Linked DNA regions of Homo sapiens: region 2 is linked to region 1. Evidence: fine-mapped expression QTL. Tissue or cell type: whole blood. Region 1 holds a variant in brackets; the other region holds the start of a gene. All regions are shown on one strand. Distances are between the middles of the regions.

Region 1 (8,000 bases):
CAGGCCACAGCCACCTCTGCCGGTGTCCTGGGGGCTGGGGGCCGTCGGAGCCAGTGCAGACCCTCACCCTTGACGCAGCCACAGCAGGCTCAGGGTTCTGCAAAACAGCCAGAGGGGAGCGTGGCAGCCCCTGCAGCTTGGGGTCAGCTGGTGTGGGTGGGGGATGTGGGGCGTCATGGGGGGCTCTGCCACATCTCTAAAGGGCCGTAGTTAGGGGAGGCCCTGATGGCCACACCGCACTCTCTCAGGGTCACACAGCTCACAGCCACACGCTCTCAGGTTCACACTCATGGCTCACGGCCACACCGCACGCTCTTAGGTTCACACTTAAGGCTCACACTCACGGCTCACGCTGACACCACACACTCTCAGGTTCACGCTCACGGCCACACTGCACGCTCTCAGGTTCACACTCACGGCCCTGAGCTGGCCTGGGTCCATTGCTGACCTGAGTGGCAGTGTTTTAGGGTGGGGTTGGCCTGGATGGGCTCCTGGCCTCCTGTGGCTCTGTGCTGGGGCAGGAAGGAGCGAGGCCCCCAAGCCTGGCAAACACGCCTGTGTCTCAGGGTTGGGGAGTCTCCTCCCCAGCATCTCAGAGCACACCCAGCAGCCATTGCCAACTGTCCCGAGCCCCAGGCCAGCAGCCCTGGCCTGTCCTGGCCCAGGCAGGTGGAGGTGAGTGGGGTGCAGGAGCACCTGCTGCCAGCTTGAGGCTCTGCCCTGTGTGGGGGCCCCAGGGCCTGTGCTGAGCCCGGAGGAAGGAACAAGGCTGAGAACCCCCTGGCTTTCAGGGGCAACTGGAATCGGAGAGGTGTTTCCGCAGAGCCCGGCCAGGGTCAGCCCCTGTAACGCTCCCAACATCCGAGCTCCTGAGAGAAGCTGAGGCCGGGGCAGGTGGTAACTTTCCCAGACCCCGCGGCCAGATGCCCAGGCATGGCTGAGCCTGCAGGGATGACCCAGGCCCATGTGCAGAGCCCTCGGCACCCACAGCCGGTCCCGTGAGGCTCAGGCATGTTCAGAGAGCAGCGCATCTGCCATGTGCAGGGGGCACCGGGGGCCAGGCGAGGAGCCAGGGCCACCGTCCTGCCCGTCTGCTCAGCGGTGTCTGTTTGCAGGGGCTCCGCGCGTGGCCGCCTCCCTCTTCCTGGGCACGTTCTTCATTAGCTCCGGCCTCATCCTCTCCGTAGCTGGGTTCTTCTACCTCAAGCGCTCCAGTAAACTCCCCAGGGCCTGCTACAGAAGAAACAAAGGTATCTCCCGGACCAGCACCTGCCCCACGGGAGGGCACAGGGCAGGCGGCATCCAGCCGTGGAGATGGGCCTGAGACTGGAGTGTCCCAGGCCAGAGCAGGCTGGCAGAGGCCGGGAGGGAGCAGGGCCTGTCCTGTGGCTTTTGGGTCCCGGTGTGAGAAGGCCCGTCACTTCCCGGAAACAGCCGTGTGTGGATTTGAAGGGTCGAAGCACCAAGGGGCCTTCCTCGGGGCCCAGAACCTCTGCTGGAGCCCTCTTCCGGCAGAGGCGTCTCCCCGGGGCCCTCAGGGCATCACGAGGGGCGAGTGGAGCGGGGCTGGGTGGCTCTCGGCAGTTGGACTTGCCTGGGCTCCTCCAGCAGCCATGGTCCCCCCTCCCCTCTCCTGGGGTCAGGGCTGGCCAGGCTGGTGCAGGGCCCACACCCCAGCCTACGCCACGCCGTACACACGGTCACCCCGGGCCTGGGCACTGACCCCTTCCCACTGGAGAGACGGCCTTGTGACTGTGGTGCCTTCAGGCGGGGGCGGGTTCTGAGCAGGGTCCGTGGTGCCTGCCCTCGTTGTCCAGGGCCGGCCCCCGCAGGGTCCCTGCCAGGCAGATGGTCCAGCCAGCAGTTCGGACCCCAAGGTGAGCACTTGGCCAGACTGTGATAGCCGAGCTGGGGCCTCCTCCCAGGTCTCTGGGCAGCCCCACCTGGCTGCTGTGAGACCCCTGTCCATCCCCCTCAACCTCTCTCGGGGTCTCAGGGCCCAGCCTCCAGTCGGGAGCCCGCTGCCAGGGTCTCCTGCACAGCCAGGCACCGAGAGACCCGGCCTGCTCAGCATCTCTGCCTATGGGCACCCTTGGAGCAGAGCAGGGCTCAGGGCTTGGTCAGCCCTGGTGGCCACGGGACGAGAAGCCAGGTTGGCCACGATGCCACGGCACCCCCATCGCGGGGGCACCATGGAGGCAGAAGCCCACGGCCGTGGGGCTCAAAGCCACCTCGTGCCTGAGGCTCCTCCCGGGAGGGTGGGAGGGCAGCCCTTCCCCTGGGACCCTGGAGCCTGGGGAGACGCTTCTCATGAGGGGGGCTTGTCCCCTCTGCTGAGGCGGGAAGGTGGGTCCAGGGAGCGGGGACTCACCTGGGGTGCTAGGGAGGCCCCCGCACCTGTGAGTGCCCCGGAGGAATGTGGCAGGACCGAGGGCCAGGCTGATGCACCGCAGGGAGAGGTTGGGGGAGACCCTGCAGCCCCGGGGCCTCTGCTGCTCCGAGGACGCCGCACTGGGCTGAGGCTGAGGCAGCTCCTCGCTCTGCTGTCCCGGACGCTGCACTGGGCTGAGGTTGAGGCAGCTCCTGGGCTCCAGGGTGACTCTCCGCTTTCTCCCCCACAGCTCCGGCCCTGCAGCCTGGCGAAGCCGTAAGTAACCCACATCATCCGGGCTGAGCGTCCCTGGCCGCGTGTGCCTGTGCCAGGCCATCCCGAGTCCTCACTCTGCCTTTCTCTCCTTTTCAAGGCTGCAATGATCCCCCCGCCACAGTCCTCAGGTAACAGCAGCTGTCGCATCCCCCTGTGGGGTTTCCCATCTCTGGGCCAGTCCCAGGGTGCTCTGTGGGTTTGTCCCCAAACGGGTTTGCCTGGCTCTGGATCTCGGCCACCCCTGCCCGGGTCCCCAGGAGACCCACCCACAAGGCAGGGCCAGGGCCGGATTTGGCTGGTGCCCCCTGCTCTGGATCTCAGCTGGATTTGGCCGGCGCCCCCTGCCCGCCCCCCTTTAATCCCCGTGACTTCCATGCTCTTTCCTGTTCCCGAGACGTGGGGTCTGCAGGAAAGGAGGACCCACCACGACAGGGCAGACCCCCAATACCTGCTCCTCCTTGAAGTCCAGCTCCACCCGAGGACAGACGCAGCCGGCCTCCGCCAGGCCCTCCTGAGCAGCCATCGCTTCAGTGGTGCTGGGTCAGGCGGACCCAAGAGTCAGCCCGGTTAGGACCCATTTTATGTGCGGGGCCACAGACACAGGCTGAGTGACCGGCGCACAGCCACACAGCTCCAAGGCCATGAGCAGGGCTCACCCGGCCTCCGTCCCCCTGTGCAGAAGTCTGTCATGGGGGCAGGTGACCGTGCCTTTAGGGGACAGACCGTTCTCCATCAAGGCTGGACGTGCCCCGTCCCTAAAGCAGCCCTGTCTGCAAGTGCCCAGCAGACCCCACGGTGCCCGAGTGCCCCGGGGCTGCCAGCTTCAACAGCAGACCTTTAATCTGACTATCCTAGAGTTCAGAAGTCCAAAACCAAGGGGCAAACAAGGCCACACGCTTCCCGAGGCTCCGGGGAGGACGCTGTCTGCCTTCCCAGCCCCTGCCGGCTCAGGCATCTGTGGCTGCGTTGCCCGTCTCTGTCCCCTGGTCCCACGGCGTCTCCCCCACCTCTGCGTCTTCTCTCTCTGCCTCTCTCTCAGGTGGGCCCTGGCCGTTGTTTCAGGGCCTGCCCGGGGAACCCTGGGCGATCACACCTGAGACCCTGACGTAACCCCCTGCAAAGCCCCTTCTTCTAAATAAGGTCACATTCGAGGTCTTGGGACTACGGCCTGCTTGTCGCCCCCTGAGGTGCATGATACTCTGGGACCCACATCTCTGTCTTCGGGGATCGCCTGGCCCTTGTCCAGGCCCCGGGGCCCAGGGTGTAAATGAGAGGACACAGCCGGGCAGGAGGAAGCCGTCCCTTTCCCGAGCTGGAGCTCTGAGGGCGCCTTAGGGGCAGGGGGCATCTGGGTTCCCACCTGGTCAGAGTAAACAGCCCCGGGCGCCTGTGCCATATGCCCACTCCCGAGAGCCTCCGGTGAGGGCTGAGGCCTGCACTGTCCCTGCTGTCCAGGTCCCACTCTGACCTCGCCTGTCTCTGACCCGTTTCAGTACGGAAGCCGCGCTACGTCAGGCGGGAGCGGCCCCTGGACAGGGCCACGGATCCCGCTGCCTTCCCGGGGGAGGCCCGTATCAGCAATGTCTGACCTGGAGGCCGAGACCACGCCACGCACTTGGCGGCAGGGACCCGGAGGCCGACCCCTTGGCGGGAACCAGCACAAAGTGTTGGCATCGCCCGGCGCCCGGGACAGTCCTGGGCACAGCCTCGGCTCTGAGTCCCTCCGCCTCCCAGCGACGGACGCCAAAGGGTCCCGGGCCGCCTGAGGCTCCTCCCCACCACAGCCATCTCGTTTATCGGACCAGGAGCAGGCATCCATGAGACCTCAGAGCTTCAGATCGAGGCCTTGGGGGGTCCGGGCCCCCCCAGGAAACACGGTGAGGCCCCAGCGCCTGCAGCCAAAGCTGGCACGATCTATGGGGCAGGTGCCGCTCTGCCTAGAAAAGCCAGGGGCTCTGCTGCCGTGCCCTCCAGAGCCCACAGCGGGCAGGACTCCTCCAGCACCACCACACCCAGTGGCCCGAGACCCCTCTGAGAACAGTGAGGCTGGTCCTCGTGCCGTTCCAGCCGGTGCCCGGCCAGTGGGGAGGACACAGCCTAGGAACCAGCTGCCTGAGACCAGGGTGCCTCTGGGCTGTCCTCCCGCGTGGCGGA[G/A]ACCCCAAGCACGCAGCCACCCATTTCCGGAGCTGCAGGATAGAGCTTCCTCTTGATCTCTGTTTTTAAGCAGAAATTCATTGTGCAGAAAAGTCCTCCAGAGCTCTGTGGCCCCGCTCGGATCCGCTGGACCCCCATGCCTGGCTGATCCCTGCCCACGTGGGGCAGGCCCACATCTAACCCCCACAAGTCACTGCCTCACTGCACCTGCCAAGGCTGCCCTGGCGCTGAGTCCTGGGGTCCCTCCCGGAGTTCCTGGGAGAAAGGCGCCGTCGTGGCCGCCTCCCGCACGCCAGGCCCGGGCTCCACCGTGGGTCTCAGACGCCCTGCGGCACCGGCACCGTCTGCTTTAGCATGGGACCCCCCTCTGAGGGGTGGCCTGGCCTTCGGGGTCCCCACGCTCCTTTGCGAAGTCCACTGTGGGTGCCATCATGGTCTCCGGGACCTGGGCCAGCGGGAACGTGGGGGCACTGGGTGTGCTGATATAAAGTCGGCATTACTCAAGCTGCGTTCCGAGCTGCTCTCTCCCGTAGGATGCTCTGTTCTCTAAGTGCAGGTCGGGGAGCAAAGCCCCCGCCAGGCTGGCCCCACGCACTCCGCCACCGTGTGCTGGGGGCAAGGAGGTGGGACGGGGGTGGAGGAGAGTCCAGGTTGGGGCTGCCTGGTTGGGACCCCCCGCCCCGCGCCGCACATTTTCTGCCACAGGCCCATTCCCCAGATGCAACCTGTGCAGGTGGGACCTGTGGTCCCCGAACCCCCAGCTCGGAGTGAGGTGGGACAGAGTGTGGGTGTGCGTTTCCATCGGCCGGCCGGGCTGCGTGGGGGCTGCAGACACGGGCCCCGGGAGGGCTGCCATGGCCATCTGGGGGGGCAGCAGTGTGGGGGTGTTTGCTGACAGTGATGGGCCTGGCCAGAGAGGGCTGAGCTGGGGCAGGACAGGCCTTGAGGGCAGAGGGCCCGGGCACCAGGATGCCAGAGCGCGGGCCCTGCTCTCGTAACCGTGCCCTCCACCCAGGCAGAAACGTCCACTGCCTGGAGGGTCGTGTCCTTAGACACCTGCATCCCTGTCCCCAAAAACCCCCAGCCTGAGGTTTGCAGCCAGGGAGTATCTGGGGGAGCATTGGCTCTGCCCTGGGCCCTGGCCCAAGAAGTGTCCTGGGGCTGGGAGGGTCACTGGTCCTGGGGAGAAAGGGAGGGACTGGACAGCCCAAGGCCACTCTGAGCCCAGTACCCACCGCCCCACCTGATGCCCTGGGCCACGCCCCTGTGACGCGGGAGCCCCCAGACTCCTCCTGTGGGGAAGGAGACAGGGACCGAGATGGGAGCAGAGGGAAGGAGACAGGGACCGAGGTGGGGGCGGAGGGAAGGAGACAGGGACCGAGGTGGGGGCGGAGGGAAGGAGACAGGGACCGAGGTGGGGGCGGAGGGAAGGAGACAGGGACCGAGGTGGGGGCGGAGGGAAGGAGACAGGGACCGAGGTGGGGGCGGAGGGAAGGAGACAGGGACCGAGGTGGGGGCGGAGGGAAGGAGACAGGGACCGAGGTGGGGGCGGAGGGAAGGAGACAGGGACCGAGGTGGGGGCGGAGGGAAGGAGACAGGGACCGAGGTGGGGGCGGAGGGAAGGAGACAGGGACCGAGGTGGGGGCGGAGGGAAGGAGACAGGGACCGAGGTGGGGGTGGAGGGAAGGAGTCCACATCCCCCTGGAAACTCCACTCCTGCATTTGCACCAGGCTGGGCGTCTGGTTTGGAGGATAAAATCGGAAACAGGCACGAACAGCAGGTCCAGCCAGGCAGGGTCTGGAGGCCAGGCCAGACACAGACAGGCACCTCCCAGCCCACCCTCTGAGCAGCCCCCCAGGCCCCATCTCTCAATTCTGGGTCCCCTCCTCCTCCTCCCACCCAGTGGCCCAAACCAAAAACCCAGGGTCATCCTGACACCTCCACATATCCCCCTCAGCTGGCTCCCCACGTCCCCCACCTGCGCACTCGCGATTGGCCCTTGGGCAGCACGTGGTCAGCCAGGACCTGTGGCAGCGAGGGGCACGCCCTCCTCACTGGGCACAGGAGGGACACACTGAGCTGGGCCTAGGGGCGGCCCCAGCACGTCAGGGGCAAAGCTAGACCCAAGTGCACGTCCCGGAGCCCTGCTCCCCCGCACCGGCCTCCCCTCTGCACATCTGGGCCCTTGGGAAAGAATTCCAGTCCCACGGCCAACAGAGCCGCTGCATTTGAGGCAATGGCCCAGCACGGGGCGGGGCGGGGTGGGGCGAGGCCGGGGGCCCCACAGCAGCCTGGAAGGCCCCTCCCCGCACCGGCCGCACCACGTCCCCAGGCCTGGCAGTGCCAGGTGTGACCCGTAACCGAGGCCTGGAGGGGAAGGAGTCCCTGAGAGGGCGTGAGGAGACCGAGTGAAGGAGGTGAGGGGTCAGGTGCTCACACCAGCATCCATGTCTCAAGCATGGGCACGTGTGCTCACACACGCCCACACGCTCACCAGCCCAGCCTCCCGCCCACTGGCTGCGACGGAGGGGACCAGGCGGGCCCACCCCCTGCCCTGGAATCTGCCAGCCAAGCTGCTCTGAGCCTCCCGAGAGCCCTGAGAGACCGTCTGAGCTGAGAGAAGGGGAGCTGCTGGCTCCTCTCCTGCACAGGGAGGCCTGGCCTGGCGCCGAGACCACACATTCCTCCGGCCTTTCCTCACCTTTGCCTCCGGCACGAGTGTCAGCCGGGAGCCCAGAGTGACCTCAGTGCCAGGATATTCCCAGGAGCTGTCGGGAGGACGTTCCCAGAGCTGCAGGGGCCAGGGTGCTTCCTGGAGGCGGCATGTGACCCGAGTCACGGACCTCAGGAAGCAGGAGCCTCCGACGAGTGCTTTCAGGGCCTCACAGCGGCCCTGCACAGAGTCCCCATAGCCTCAGCCTCCCCCCACGGAGTCCCCATAGCCTCAGCCTCCCCCCACGGAGTCCCCATAGCCTCAGCCTCCCGGCACGGAGTCCCCATAGCCTCAGCCTCCCCCCACGGAGTCCCCATAGCCTCAGCCACCCCCCACGGAGTCCCCATAGCCTCAGCCTCCCCCCACGGAGTCCCCATAGCCTCAGCCACCCCCCACGGAGTCCCCATAGCCTCAGCCTCCCCCCACGGAGTCCCCATAGCCTCAGCCTCCCGGCACGGAGTCCCCATAGCCTCAGCCTCCCGGCA
Region 2 (8,000 bases), 32 kb before region 1:
GCAGTAAGATTCCACTTACACTACAGAGCCTAAATAATTTCCTCATTTGAAAGATGATTCAGTGGCAAAGCCGACCCTCTCTCAGGACAAGTTCTCTTGAGCATTATGAATGCCGGGCTGGGCACGGCAGCTCACACCTGTGGCCCCAGGTGCTGTGGGAGGCCAAGGCAGGAGGATCCTTGAGCCCGGGCGGTCGAGGCTGCAGTGAGCTACGATGGCACCACCGCACTCCTGCCTGGGCGACAGAGCGAGTCCTCATCTCAACAAAACATCCCGCCCCTACAAAACCCCATGCATTACAAACATAAGATGGTTCTATTTTAATACAAAAAATATTAGTGCACAGCTTTTTAGTTCCCCAACCTTCCCATACTGCACCTGAAGTCTCTGGGGAGGAAAGTGCTCCCTTTCGGGGACACAAACAGCCCGGTTGGCAGAGGTGGGGTCCCTGGTGTGATCTGTGGGCACCTGCGACTTACGATGCTCCCCTGTGGCTTTCAGACCTAGCATCCCTGCTATAACCTGAGGATGGGATTCAGCCCGTGTGGCCCTTAGGGGAGTAAATGTCGTTTCTGTTTTAGTCTAGAGATTGTCCTTCAACTTGATGCGACCCTACGGTGTCCTTATGTTTCCACCTGGCCTAGTGGAATCCTGCACCCTTTCGTGTTCTCGGGAATGTGCACCCCGTGCGGTTACTCAGGAGGGAGCCTCCAGGGACATCTCGCATGGCCTCGTCTCCCTTCCCCAGGGAGAGGACGAGCTATCCACTGCCCGCCTGACAGACGAGGGAGTGCCCAGTGCCCAGGCAGCTGCTGTCAGGTTGGCCCACGCCGGCAGGGGCTCTGCTCCCAGAGATCAGGTGGGTGCTGGTCTCAGAGCACAGTTCAGCAGGTGCTGGGTGGGCCCTGTTGGGGCCTGCAGCCCGGGCCCGAGGCACACACACATGCACTGCACGGCTTCCCGCAGCTCCAGGACTTTGCCTTCTTCCCTCTGACAGGGGCCAACGTGTAGAGAGGTGCAGACCACCATGAGTGACGGAACAAGGGGCGGGGACACTTGTGGACCAAGCTCCAGCATAAGGACACGGTCACCCAGGGCCACAGCCCCAGGCCAAGCCGAGGGGTAGGGACTTGACACTGACACAGGCAGCTTCCGCAGCTGTGAAACCACCCGGGAAACGCTGGTCTTCAGGAAATAGTCAAGAAAGTGGACGCCAGGCATGGTGGCTCACGCCTGTAGTCTCAGCACTTTGGGAGGGCCAGGCGGGAGGACTGCTTGAGCCCAGGAGTTTGAGACCAGCCTGGGCAAAACAGACCCCCGTCTCTACAAAAAAATAAAGAAATATGTGTCAAGGCATGGTGGCACACACCCGTGGTCCCAGCTACTCTGGAGGCTGAGGTGGAGGATCGCTTGAGCCTAGGAGGTCCAGGCTGCAGTGAGCCACGATCATGCCACTGCATCCAGCCTGGGTGACAGCGTGAAATCCTCTCAAACACAAAAAAACAAAAAGGAAGTGGAAACACTGGCTCAGCTCCACAATGAGTTGCCGCAGACGGCAAGAGCCTGTGGCACAGACTGGACTCCGAGAAGGGGACCGCGACTGTGTCCTCCCCGTGGTCCTCAAACGTCGCCCAGGCCAGGTTCCTCTTAATGGGACCGACACAGAAGCTGCACGTCCGCGGGCGCATGGCCGGAAACCCTGCAGCTGTCAGCGAACCCCTGGTGCTGGGCGCCCACGCCCAGGTGTCCCACGGCCAGACACTGGTGGCATCAACTCCTCCAGAGGCCCTGAGGGAACCCTGGGATGGACCCTCAGGCGAACACTGTCCCTCTAAAGAGAAGACACAAATGTGACTTCCCCAGCTGTCCCCAATACTGTTTACAAAACATCCTCACGCTGTTAAGATGGGGGCTTTATTTCCATTGAAATCTCTGGCATTTAAACTTGGGATGGAACCCGGAGGCGGCGTCCATCAAGGAGGAACAACCCCAAGGCGCATGCAGGACGGGCCTGGGAGCTCCCGGGAGCAAGGGAGCTGGGGGGTCTGGGGGCCTGGGAGGTTGGGGGGTCTGGGGGGTTGGGGGGTCTGAGGGGTTGGGGGTATATGGGGGGTTGGGGGATCTGGGGGTTTTGGGGGGTCTGAGGGGTTGGAAGGGTCTGCGGAGGTTGGGGGGGGCCGCGACACCTGCAGCGCCCCCCCACCCTGCGCGCTGGCCCAGCTAGGAGAGGGCCCGGGGACACCGACAGGATTGAAGCCTTTGATGAGCGGACGGACGTCCCCAGTTCCTTCGGGGAGCTCCTTTAAACATGTTTGCCGAAAGCTGCGGGCGCCGCGGGACGCACAGAGCTGTCTTTTCTCCGAGGGTGGCTCAGAGGCAGAGCCCCGGAAAAACCCACGCGCCCGGCCTGTGGGGCAGCGACGCCGCCCAGACCCCGGGGCCGCCGAGACTCACGGGGGAGCGTCCTGAGACCGCAGAGCCCTGACCCGTCCGAGAGGCGAAGCCCCGGGAGCCCTCTGGGTCCGAGCCGTCCCAGTCCCGCACCCAAGGCAGGGTCTCTCCCGCCGCGCTCCGACACCGGCCGCCGAGGTCCCAGCACTGGCGCCGGCCGCGGACCTGGGGCGCATTTGGCGGCGGCTCGCGAGGCGCTCGGGGCGCTCCGTGGGTCTGGAGGGCGCTGGCCCCGCGCGCCCGCGGCCAAACCTGGTGCAGCCGCGCCGCCTTCTCCGATGAAGCCGAAGCCGCCCCGGCCGCCCCCAAACGCTCCGCCTCCGCCTCCGCCTAAACCGGCGGAACGCTAAGGACGCCGACGCTTGTGCGGTCGCCCGGGAGACCCCGACGACGCCCCGCCCCGTCTCCCGGCAACGCCAAGCAGCCGGCGCGCGAGGAATCCGGGGGAATGTAGTCCCTCCGTGTCAGGGACCCGAGACATGCGCTGGTTCTTCTAGGACTACATTTCCCAGGGCGCTTCGCGCCCCGCCCCGGCGCCCCACCCACGGCCGCGCGCGATGGTACCACCAGGCGAGGGCGGCTCTCGCGCGGGCCGCCGGGAGTTGTAGTTTTCTTTGGGAGCTGCGGGGCCTGGCGCCGGGGCCGGGGCGGAAGAAAGACTACAAGTCCCAGGGGGCGCGGCGCCACCGCCTGAGGGCGGGGTGTACGAAAGAGAAACCCGGAGGGCGCCGGGGTGAGTGAGGGGCTGGGGGCAGGCGTGAGGGTAGCGGGTTGGGGCGCTGGGGTCCGTCTGGGCGGCCGGGTCGGCGCAGGGAGTGCGAGAGGCAGACAAAGGTCGGCGGCCCTGGCCCGGCCCGAGGGACGTTCCCTGCGCGTCCCCCATTGTGCGGCGCGCGGAGGAGCCGCCAGCGCCTGGGCCCGCGTCCTCGTCGCCGCCTCCCAACGAGCCTGGCCGCGGTCCTATGGGGGAAAGGCGCCCGGGCTGAGCGGGACGCCTGGGGAGGGGAAGGGGCGTCTGAGGAGGGCAGGGGGACCCCGGGGAGGGGTGGGGAGGGGGTCCCTAAGGAGGGGAGGGGGTTCCCGGAGCGGGGAGGGGGGGTCCCTGGGGAGGGGAAAGGTTCCCGGGGCAGGGAAGGGGGTCCCTGGGGAGGGGAGGGGGTCCCTGGGGAGGGAGGGGGGTCCCTGGGGAGGGGAAGGGTTCCCGGGGCAGGGAAGGGGGTCCCTGGGGAGGGGAGGGGGTCTCTGGGGGAGAGGGGGCACCTGGGGAGGGGAGGGGGTTCTCGGGGCAGGGAGGGGGTCCCTGGGGAGGGGATGGGACGGGCGCCCGGGGGAAGAAAGGGGGCGCGTTCGCCTCGCCTTCCCGGCAGCCGGGAGTGGGGGCACCGGCGCGGTCCCCGGTGTCCTAGAAGTCGGCCACGATTCAGGTCTTTTTCCCGCGAGGCTTTAGGATTTGTTTTTGTCCGTTTGTCACCTGGAGTAGCCGAGGGCTAGTCGGGGTGCAGTTTTTCGGGAGCGCGTGTTCCGGTGGCAGCGAGTCGATGATTGAGTTTGGGTGTAATTTAAGCCCAGGTGTTCGGGGGCATTTCTTACCGCGTTTCAAAGCAAACGCGGCTTCTTCCCCGGGAACTATTTTGTGGCTGAATTCTTAGCCGCCTCGTCCTGTTAAATTTCAGGATGTCAAACTTGGCCTCCTTTTTTTGGTTTTCATTTTTCTTAGTATTACCAGGGTGTGCAGAGAAGGCAGAGCTGCGTCTTCCTCTTTTATTTTTCCGTAAGTTACTGGGGTACAGGTGGTGTTTGGTTACTTGGTTACATGGGTAAGCTCTTTAGTGGTGATTTGTGAGATTTTGGTGCTCCCATCACCCGAGCAGTACGCACTGCACCCTATTTGTAGCTTTTTATCCTTGTCCCCCTCCCACCCTTCCCTCCGAGTCCCCAAAGTCCAGTGTATCGTTCTTAGGCGTCTTCCTGTTTCCTGATGGCTTAACCTGGGAAACCCTCGCAGAGGGAGCCGGTTTTGAGCCCCAGGGTAGGGGCGGCCGCCTGGGATGTTCAGTGATGCGCCTGATTACTCAGGTTTATGTTCCCCGTTTGCATTCAGCCAGGATCCGTCATGGCCACGTTGTTTTTAACATACATGTTTATGAATTATACAGAAACGTTGTTTTCCTGACACACATCCCGCCCCCAGTACTCCTCCTAAAAGCCAGTCAGGCAGGTGTTTCCACACGCAGTCACCTCAGCCCTGGGGTGCACAGGCAGCATCCCGGGAACCCCTGAGATACCTCCCAGCTGCTCCCTGCCTTGCGGCTGCTCTCCACCTGAGCTTTGACTTACTGGGTAGCTCATTTAAAGAACAGCTAGCGCTGTGGGTGCTGGGGTGGGAGATCGCTTGAGACCAGTCTGGGCAACATAGGGAGACCTCGTCTCTATAAAAAATAAAAAATATTATCCAGGCATGGGGGCAAGCACCTGTGGCCCGTTACAGTAGGTAGCTAGTCAGACATGAGCAGGGCAGAAGAGGGGCCCCCCTCTACCAGGGACATTTGGCTGGTAAGAGAAGGCGGCCCTGGCTGTGCGCGGTGGCTCACACCTGTAATCCCAGCACTTTGCAAGGCCGTGGGGGGAGGGGGGCGGATCAGAAGGCCAGGAGTTTGAGATCAGCCTGGCGAATATGGTGAAACCCCGTCTCTGATAAAAATACAAAAATTAGCCGGGCATGGTGGCGGGCGCCTGTGGTCCCAGCTACTCAGGAGGCTGAGGCAGGAGAATCGCTTGAACTCGGGAGGCGGAGGTTGCAGTGAGCCGAGATTGCGCCACTGCACTGCAGCCTGGGTGACAGAGCGAGACTCCATCTCAAAAAAAAAAAAAAAAAAAAAGGCCTCGAGGGAGCGTGCGCACAACTCCAGTAAACTCTGTGCATGCTCCCTCCCAAGTGCCCGCAGCCGCTGTGCGGGTGGACGGCCCACCCCGAGGGAAGAATCGGGAGACGTAACACCCCGGAAGCCTCCAGCGTGGAAGACCCTAAGTCAAAGGTCAAACTGCGCACTTGATCTCTCAGGTCTCCTGCCTGGCCTTCTTCCAAGGGCGCTTTACTTCCTTTCATTCCTGCTCTAAAGCTTCTTCATAAACTGTTGCTCCTGCTCTAAGGTCTCTTCTGCCTCCTACCCGTCCATCAAACTCTTCTGAGGAGGGAAAAATTGAGGTTCACTGCTGCTAACATGCTTTGGTGTCAGAAGTGGGACATATTCTGCCACTAACAGTCCCAGCTACTCGAGGGACTGAGGCAGGAGGATCGCTTCAGCCCCGGAGGTGGAGACTGCAGTGAGCCGAGATCGCAACGATGCACTCCAGCCTGTTTCACAAAGAAAAGAAAGAGCCACCTCTTCTCACCACTCTGGCTGAGGGTTGCGTGTGCCGAGGTGGAGTGTGGAGCTCAGGTGAGCCTTCAGAGCTCTATTACTGGCAGAATGTATCTGAGTTTCAGCACCAAAGTATGTCAGCAGCGGCCTCGATTCTCGCTGCCTCAGAAGAAAGAATTTGATGGAAGGACATGAGGCTGAAGGAGAGACTGAGGCAAGTTTTTTTTTTTTTTTTGAGATGGAGTCTGTCTCTGTCGCCCAGGCTGGAGTGCAGTGGCACAATCTCGGCTCACTGCAAGCTCTGCCTCCCGGGTTCATGTCATTCTCCTGCCTCAGCCTCCCGAGTAGCTGGGACTACAGGTGCCTGCCACCACAACCGGCTAATTTTTTGTATTTTAGTAGAGAAGGGGTTTCTGCATTTTGGTCAGGCTGGTCTCGAACTCCCAACCTCAGATGATCCACCCACCTCAGCCTCCCAAAGTGCTGGGATCACAGGCGTGAGCCACCGCACCCCACCGACTAAGGCAAGTTTTAGAGCAGGAGTGAAAGTTGTTGAAGAAGCTTTAGAGCAGGAAGGAAAGGAAGTACCCTTGGAGGAGGGCCAGACGGGCGATGTGAGAGATCAGGTGTGCGGTTTCACCTTTTGACTTGGGGTTTTATAGCCTGGCAGGCTTCTGGGGTCTTGCACCCCTTCTCCCCTGATCCTTCTTCAGGGTGGGCTGTCCACCCATGCAGCATCTTGCTAGTACTTGGGCGGGAGCATGCGCCATGTGTTCCCTGGAGGGAGGGAGCATGCCCGGTGTGTTCACTGGAGGGAGGGAGCATGCCCCGTGTATTCACTGGGGGGAGGGAGCATGCGCTGTGTGTTCACTGGAGGGAGGGAGCGTGCGCGTTGTGTTCACTGGAGGGAGGGAGCATGTGCCGTGTGTTCACTGGAGGGAGGTAGCATGTGCCGTGTGTTCACTGGAAGGAGGGAGCATGCGCTGTGTGTTCACTGGAGGGAGGGAGCGTGTGCGTTGTGTTCACTGGAGGGAGGGACCGTGCGCCGTGTGTTCACTGGAGTAGTGCCCATGCTCACCTGAGGCGTTCTTCCGTTACCTGTCAAACGTCCCTAGAAGGTCATAGAACGGTTACACGCCGCCATTTTGCCTCTCAGTGCACACGCTTGAGCCAACTCGCCCAGTTCCTGAGATCGTATCGGGAAGCTGCCCATCACCGGATTTCATGTGTTTTCTAGCTATTGGGAGCCTGTCTTTCCCTGGCGCTGGGTGCAACCAGTTCTTTTAGACAGTTAACAGCCACCTGACCATCACCTGATGGTGGCCTGACATTCCCGGTGGGGGGATGGGCCCGATCCTGCCCTGCTCACGTCTGCTGAGCCACCTACGGCAACCGCCCGACTCCGGTGTGCTGAGCCCACGGGTAGGTGGGCAGCGACTACCATGCATGTCAACAAAGGGGGATGTCTCCTTTACACCCCATCAAGGGGTTTGCGGTATTTGTTTTCTATCAAAGCACGAGAGGGATCTTTAGGTAGAGAGGCCCCAGACAGTTCTTATTGGGCCCTTAAAGCTACGTTTCACGTTGGCTTCCTTTGCTTGCTACGAAGATGACCAGCATTAGCTACACGGATGCAGTGGAAGCTCCAGCCAGCCCTCGGGGCTGTGTTTACCGAGGTTCAGCAGCGTGAGAAACCCGCCAGTGGACCCTCCCGCCTCCCCTTTTCAGTTACTGCTGCCTGGGCGGCTGGAGTTACGGTGAGCGTGGGTGTGGTCTACCCACTGCCCCAGCCGGTGGTTGCTTTTACAGGGTTGTTTTGCAAGATGTTACTTATTTAAAATCACAGTGACCTGAGGCATCATTTTTTTCTTGAAACCAGTTCTTTGTTGTTGTTGTTGAGACGGGGTCTGGCTCTGTCGCCCAGGTAGAGTGCAGTGGTGCGATCATGGCTCACTGTAGCCTTGACCTCCCAGGCTCAAGAGATTCTTTCACTTCAGCCTCCCAAATAGCTGGGACCACAAGTATACGTCACCAAGCCCAGCTATTTTTTTTTTTTTTTTTTTTTGGTAGAGATGAGATCTCACTCTGTTGTCCGGGCTGGTTTTGAACTCCTGGGCTCAAGCGATCCTCCCACCTTGGCCTCCCAAAATGATGGGATTGCAGGCCTGAGCCTCCACACCTGCCCTG

The links. PIP is the estimated chance that this variant, and not a neighbour inherited with it, causes the effect.
Region 2: it holds the start of C1orf159, and the variant in region 1 is fine-mapped to the expression of C1orf159 in whole blood (TOPMed, PIP above 0.99).

What each region holds. Positions count from the first base shown.
Region 1 is chr1:1,079,128-1,087,127 of GRCh38, reverse strand. C1orf159 (chromosome 1 open reading frame 159) reads left to right here. Exons shown (of 10, transcript NM_017891.5): 7 at 1,116-1,250; 8 at 2,622-2,647; 9 at 2,745-2,775; 10 at 4,141-5,305. The coding sequence ends at 4,235. Among named protein-coding and RNA genes, the nearest start is that of RNF223, 8.8 kb to the right of the region's middle. RefSeq lists silencers at 5,028-5,207, 6,837-6,936, 6,997-7,076 and enhancers at 5,225-5,926, 5,927-6,629. The variant G/A (reference allele first, on the strand shown) is at 4,802.
Region 2 is chr1:1,111,244-1,119,243 of GRCh38, reverse strand. It overlaps C1orf159 (chromosome 1 open reading frame 159), which reads left to right and starts at 3,155. Exons shown (of 10, transcript NM_017891.5): 1 at 3,155-3,184. RefSeq lists silencers at 2,485-2,534, 2,575-2,694, 2,865-3,464 and enhancers at 6,441-6,735, 6,954-7,455.